Homo sapiens: one gene and its partner. The protein of the gene in region 2 purifies or fractionates together with the protein of the main gene of each other region. This does not show direct contact. Each region holds a gene or a part of one and is shown on either strand. Other genes may lie near its edges.

Region 1 (3,500 bases), on a different chromosome or scaffold from region 2:
TTATAGCAGGCCTGTGGAGGCCTTTTGCATGCCTTAACACTGGAAACAGGCCTTTTCCACGTGTTCCTGCTGTTCATGCATCTCCTTTCTGTACCCTAAGAGAGTGGGGAAGGTGTACTCACCTCAAGAAATGCCTTATGGAATGCATCTGAGACATAGAGGTCATCTCGGCCTTCTGCAACAATACCTGGAAGGAAGACCGGAGAAGTCTTTGTGAGATGGGAGAAAGTTGGCTTCAACCCACAGATGGGAATTCAGTTTGGATTAAGAGATCCTTTGGGGCTTTTTGAAACATAAGAAGAAATCCTAAATCTTCACCTAATCATACTCTCACAATGAATATGTGTTAAAAATAATAAAGTACTTTGGGGGCTGGGTGCAGTGGCTCACACCTGTAATCCCAGCACTTCGGGAGGCCAAGGTGTACAGATCACCTGAGGTCAGGAGTTGGAGACACTCTAACTAATATGGTGAAACCTTGTCTCTATCGTGAAAATACAAAAATTAGCCAGGTGTGGTGGCGCATGCCTGTAATCCCAGCTACTTGGAAGACTGAGGCAGGAGAATCGCTTGAACTCGGGAGGTGGAGGTTGCAGTGAGCCAAGATCACGCCACTGCACTCCAGCCTGGGCAACAAGAGCAAAACTGCATCTCAAAAATAATAATAATAATAATAATAATAATAATAATAATAATAATAAAAGTACTTTGGGCTTGTTCAGCATGGCTCCTGATAATTCATTCTCAGGCTTCAGCTTTTTGTGGGAGAGAGAAACGGCAAGACTCTGTTCTTACAGAAAAAACTCACTCCATCCAGAAGGAACATCTTTCTTTCCAGTCTGGCAACATTTTTAGTTTTCAAAACTAGCTTAAAGACAGCCCAATAGCACAGTGGCTCACGCCTGTAATCCCAGCACTTTGGGAGGCCAAGGCAGGTAGATCGCCTGAGGTCAGGAGTTCAAGACCAGCCTGGCCAACATAGTGAAACCCCGTTTCTACTAAAAATGCAAAAATTAGCCGGGCGTGGTGGCAGGCGCCTGTAATCCTAGCTCCTTGGGAGGCTGAGGCAGGAGAATCACTTGAATCTGGGGGGTGGAGGTTGCAGTGAGCCAAGATTGCACCACTGCACTCCAGCCTGGGGGACAAGAGCAAGACTTCGTCTCAAAAAAAAAAAAAAAAAAAAAAGGTCAATAAAGATAAATCTAATTACTTAACATCGTAAACTTATTTTATTATTTATTTATTTATTTAGTGATAGGACCTCACTCTGTTGCTCAGGCTGGAGTGCAGTGGTGTGATCACAGTACACCACAGCGTTGACCTCCCGGACTCAGGCAATCCTCCCAGCTCTGCCTCCCAAGAAGCTAGGACTACAGGTGTGCGTCACCATGCCTGGCTAATTTTTTTTATTTTTTGTAGAGACCATCTCACTATGTTGTCCAGGCTGGTCTCGAACTCATGGGCTTAGACGATCCTCCCACCTCAGCCTCCCAAAGTGCTGGTATTACAGGCGTGAGCCACCCTGGCCAGCCAACTTCTTTAAAAGATATTTTAATGTGCCAGGTGCGGTGGCTGACGCCTGTAATCCCAGCACTTTGGGAAGCCAAGGCAGGCGGATCACAAGGTCAAGAGTTCAAGACCATCCTGGCCAACATGGTGAAACCCATCTCTACTAAGAATACAGAAATTACCAGGTATGGTGACGTGTGCCTGTAATCCCAGCTACTCAGGAGGCTGAGGCATGAGAATCGCTTGAACCCGGGAGGCAGAGGTTGCAGTGAGCCGAGATCGCACCGCTGCACTCCAGCCTGGGCAACAGAGTAAGACTCTGTCTCAAGTAATAATAATAATAATAATAAATGTCAGTGAGGCCTGTGTAATGGGAACCACATTTCCCCAGCTCTTAATATCTGTCTCTTTGCTCTGAATTCCAATGCCCTTTCAAATTCCTCTCCACCTGGTCCCATCTCCTCTACCTGATACAGACTCACAGGGCACCAGTGCTAGCTGGGCCCATGGAGATCCAAGAACAAACTTCCCTTTTACAGAAGAGGAAACTGAGGTCTCAAAAGGAAAAGAGATTTCCACAAATTAGCAGTAGAAACTAGGATCAGTATCCAGGAGTCCTGACTTGTTGCTCCTTTCTATTCTTTCTCCAACTCTTCCACTTTTGGTCAGACTACCTTGCGGGTGGAGAAGGGAGGAAACTCCTTCCTAGACAAACCTGGGAGTTTGGACTTTTCAGGGCTGAACAGATCGACAAGGCCCATGTCTTGCAGCTGCTCCTTCAAACTGAAGCCGTCCTCAATGCGGAAGCGGGGCATGTGGACCACCAGCATCATCTCCTCCAATTCATCCAGCCACTCTTGCAGCACCTCTGGGGTGAGTTCCTTCTCTACCTTGGCCAGGCTCTTCTCAGGCTTGGGCAAGATGAGGACCATGGTGATGTCATCACCTTTGAAGGGCAACTCAAGCACCTGGGTGCCTTCAGCCACGCGCCGATAACGGAACTTGCCTTCCTGGTACATCATAGATGCTGAACACGACTCTCCATCAGCCTTGTAGAACAGTTCCTTCCTTGTGTTCTCAGGGCTGAACTTTGACTTCCACAGGCCCTGGAAGAGAATCACAAAGTAAGAACACAAACATTCATAGGAGGATAGTTATTGACACAAGACATATCCATATTATAGTGTTACATTAATATATAATTATTCGGAAAAAAGACTGGCGGGATATGCACAAAAAGGTTAACAATGGCTGTGTCAGAATGATGGAATTATGAGTAGGTTTATTCATAACTGTCAAACCTTGGAAGCAGCCAAAATGTCCTTCAGTAGATGAATAGACAGACTGTGGTACATCCAGACCAAATGTAATGCTATTCCATGCTAAGAAGAAATGAGTGACAAAGCCACGAAAACACAAAGGAACAGTAAATGCATTTTACTAGGTGAAAGAAGCCAATCTGCCGGGCGCGGTGGCTCATGCCTGTAATCCCAGCACTTTGGGAGGCCGAGGTGGGCAGATCACGAGGTCAGGAGATCAAGACTATCCTGGCTAACACGGTGAAACCCCGTCTTTACTAAAAAAAAACCAAAAAATTAGCCAGGCATGGTGGTGGGTGCCTGTATTCCCAGCTACTTGGGAGGCTGAGGCAGGAGAATGCCGTGAACCCAGGAGGCGAAGCTTGCAGTGAGCCGAGATCACGCCACTGCACTCCAGCCTGGGCGACAGAGCGAGACTCTGTCAAAAATAAATAAATAAATAAATAATAGATTGACCTGCCCTGCTGACCTGTACCTGTGTAGCTTTCGGCAGTCCATTTGCCCTCTCAGGGCTTCGGTCTCGCCATTTAAAAAAAAAGGGGGTAAGCTGAAGAGCAAGAGGAAGTCCCTGGGGTCTCTCCAGGGCCATTCTGAGTACCTTGAAGTAAATGGTGTTAACCAGCACCAGAACAGTGAGCTCATTGATGGCTTCCGAGGGAATGACATCGGTGA
Region 2 (3,015 bases):
AATCCATCTGTTGGAAGATCAACAATTGGAACGAGTTTTGGAAATGTTCATCTGGACAGAAGTAAAAATGAAAAAGTATCAAGAAAATCAACCAGTCAGACAGGAAATAAAAGCTCAAAAAGGAAACAGGTGGATTTGGATGGTGAAAATATTCTCTGTGATAATAGAAATGAACCACCTCAACATAAAAATGCTAAAATACCTAAGAAATCAAATGATTCACAGAATAGATTGTACGGCAAACTAGCTAAAGTAGCAAAAAGTAATAAATGTACTGCCAAGGACAAGTTGATTTCTGGCCAGGCAAAGTTAACTCAGTTTTTTAGACTATAAATTTGTGTCTTATATGCTTTAGGTTTATGTATCTATAAACCATTCACCAAAGACATGCTTAATTTTTAAGAGATCAAGGTGTAAATTATGATGATTTATTATTTTGGTCTACAGTGTATGTAAGGTTAGTATGTTAAGCATTGTTTAAAAATACTAGTAAGTCATAATTATGCAGAATTTTCACAAAGTTTAATGCACAGAGAAAGCATATCATTTCAGTTACTGATACATCTTAACACTACTTTCTTTTAAAACAGACATTTAACATACACAAGTTATAGTAGCAGTATGGGCTTCTCCTCCCATTGGCAATTAAATGCTTTTATTTTCTTCTGAAAAGATGATGTGGACCAACAGGTATCAGACTTGCCAACAAGGTCGGTAGACTCTTCCCAGCATACATCTGAGCACTGAAGGAAGAAGAAAGTTTAAATTGTTTAAAGGACTATAATTATCACACAAAATTTATTAAGAAAAAAAGAATGGATCTAGTATAACTAATTCTGAGTAAACCAAAATGATAATAATTAATTGTTGCTATTTAATCCCACATTTTTGGCAGGTGTAATTGAGCCATGGTCTTATTTGATTTTGTTATGATTGCATCCAAATTCACTTTAACTCAGAGTTCTGTTTAATGGTGGTAGGATGTAAGAATTGAATTTTGAAAAGACTACTCACTGTCAAAATCTCTCCTTCCTATAGGAAATTTAGCTGAGTTTTCTTCATCCCCAATTTCTCTCTTTTCTTGTGTTGATTCAGTATTCTGAACTCCATTCTCAGCTGGGAAAGCTACAGATCCTTTTAGTGCAAGATAAGGTTTTATAGCCAGATTCAGTGGCAGACCATGATTTAAGAAATTATGTTTGGAGCCTGTGTTCTGTAAAGAGAAGGTTGATTTGGTTTTTAGCTATCGTATTCGGAGTGGAACTATAATACAATTGTATAATATTCTTGTTGATCAATTCAAAGTTACTCTGCACTGTTTTTGACTTTTTAAAAATACCTTAGATGCAAATTTATAGGAGAAAAAACACTTTCAGATAAGAGGTGTTTGCTGGGATGGAAGAACTACCTGGCATGTAAGAAATATCGTCAGTCGTCCTAATGCATATTGTGACTGTTTGCATATACTTCTGTTTATAAAAGTATCAGTTTTACTTTTCAGAGGATTTGTAAGAATCATTTAAATTTTCATTGAAATAAACGACAAGTCACATTGCCACTTACCTTTGAAACTTTATTTTCCTCTTCGTTCATGAAACTGCTCTCATCATTTTTATATTGTTCCAGGGAAGGAGCAATAACTGATTTTTCTGCAGTGTCTTCCTTCTGAAAGCCTTTCCCCAACCTGAATGTATTAAATACCATGTCATCATCTAAATTTCTTATGGACTTGGATGCTGAAAGTAAAATACCTTGAGAAAACAAAGAAAAAGTTAGTATTAATATATAGGAAGAGAGATTCATTTTTGCCATTCTTAGTTTGATGTTTGCATACAGTCAAACAAGAAAGAAAATGAAAAATTTCTCTGTCAGCCTGCTTGGTAAACGATTCTGTATCTTTATATATTTTCTAGCTTGAATAGAAAGCACTTCAAAGAATTATACTTTTCATCATTTTAGAAATGACTCATTAGATTGAGGCTAACCTTTATGCAGCTGCTAATACCTACATTGTTTTGGTTTTAGTGACACATTGTTTATTTTGAGTGTGAATTTTCTCAGAATCTGACTAAGATCCTTGGTAGAATGCTTTCTGTTGAGTAGATTATAGTCTCTTGAAAATGGGTTGTTATTAAGGAAGACCACAGGACATCAGGCTCTCTCTATATTATTGTTTCCTTTTGTGTATTTTCTGATTAAGTAAAGATATTAAAACTCAAGTTATTTCACTCAAGGATGATAAGGATAAAGTTTTATTTCCTTTTAATCCTGATTAAACTGAAATAATCCTCAAAAGAGACTTTCTTTTATAAATACTTGATATAGTTTTTGGTGATTAAAGTACATATGCCTGTCAGTGTGAACAAAAAGCCATTCATGCTATATCAAAAATTGACCTGTCAGGTGTATTTTATCTCTGCATTTACAAAAGGATAATATGTACAAATATTTATTAATGAATTTAGAAATTAATGAATTAGTCCATGAAAAGAATATTTATGTGCCCATAAACATTACTTTTGGATGATGAGTTTATGTTGTATGACTTTTAATTAAACATTTCAGAGTTAATTTCTAATTTTGACCCCAATGAATAAGATAATACATTCTTTTATATGTCTTCTGGTACATATATGTAAGAATTTTTCTAGAGTATATTTCTCAGTATGGAATTACTGGATCATGGAGTATGTATATGTTCAGCTTTACTAATGCCAAAATGTTTTCCAACATAGTTGTAAGCGATTTGTGCCCTCGATAAGCAGGGTATGAGAATTTCCATTGTTCCATGTCCTAGCTGACTCTTGTGTCTCATTGTCCTTTTAATTTGTATTTTCCTAATTACCAAAGAGGTTAAGTGTCTTCCCATATGTTTCTGAGCCATTTATGTTTCCTCTTATGTTAAATGCTTTTTTTTTTTTTCTTTTTTGGCTTTGTCCATTTTTCTATTGGGTTGTCTTTTTCTAATTTATTTATGGGAGTTCTTTATATATTCTGGATATTAATTGTTAGTTA

The links.
Region 1: the proteins of PMCH (region 2) and SERPINC1 purify together in Homo sapiens (affinity purification with mass spectrometry; one large-scale study listed by BioGRID and IntAct). This does not show direct contact.

The regions. Positions count from the first base shown.
Region 1 is NC_000001.11:173,907,328-173,910,827, forward strand, and holds part of SERPINC1 (antithrombin-III isoform 1 precursor), read right to left. Parts: coding exon 3,427-3,500; coding exon of another isoform or gene 3,304-3,426; intron 2,616-3,303; coding exon 2,225-2,615; intron 188-2,224; coding exon 123-187; intron 1-122. UniProt on the Homo sapiens protein: Most important serine protease inhibitor in plasma that regulates the blood coagulation cascade. AT-III inhibits thrombin, matriptase-3/TMPRSS7, as well as factors IXa, Xa and XIa. Its inhibitory activity is greatly enhanced in the presence of heparin.
Region 2 is NC_000012.12:102,195,959-102,198,973, forward strand, and holds PMCH (pro-MCH preproprotein), read right to left. Parts: upstream 1,876-3,015; 5' UTR 1,813-1,875; coding exon 1,564-1,812; intron 1,563-1,563; exon of another isoform or gene 1,214-1,562; coding exon 1,015-1,213; coding exon of another isoform or gene 1,007-1,014; exon of another isoform or gene 744-1,006; coding exon 694-743; 3' UTR 501-693; downstream 1-500. Other genes in the region: PARPBP (PCNA-interacting partner), read left to right, coding at 1-333. UniProt on the Homo sapiens protein: MCH may act as a neurotransmitter or neuromodulator in a broad array of neuronal functions directed toward the regulation of goal-directed behavior, such as food intake, and general arousal. May also have a role in spermatocyte differentiation.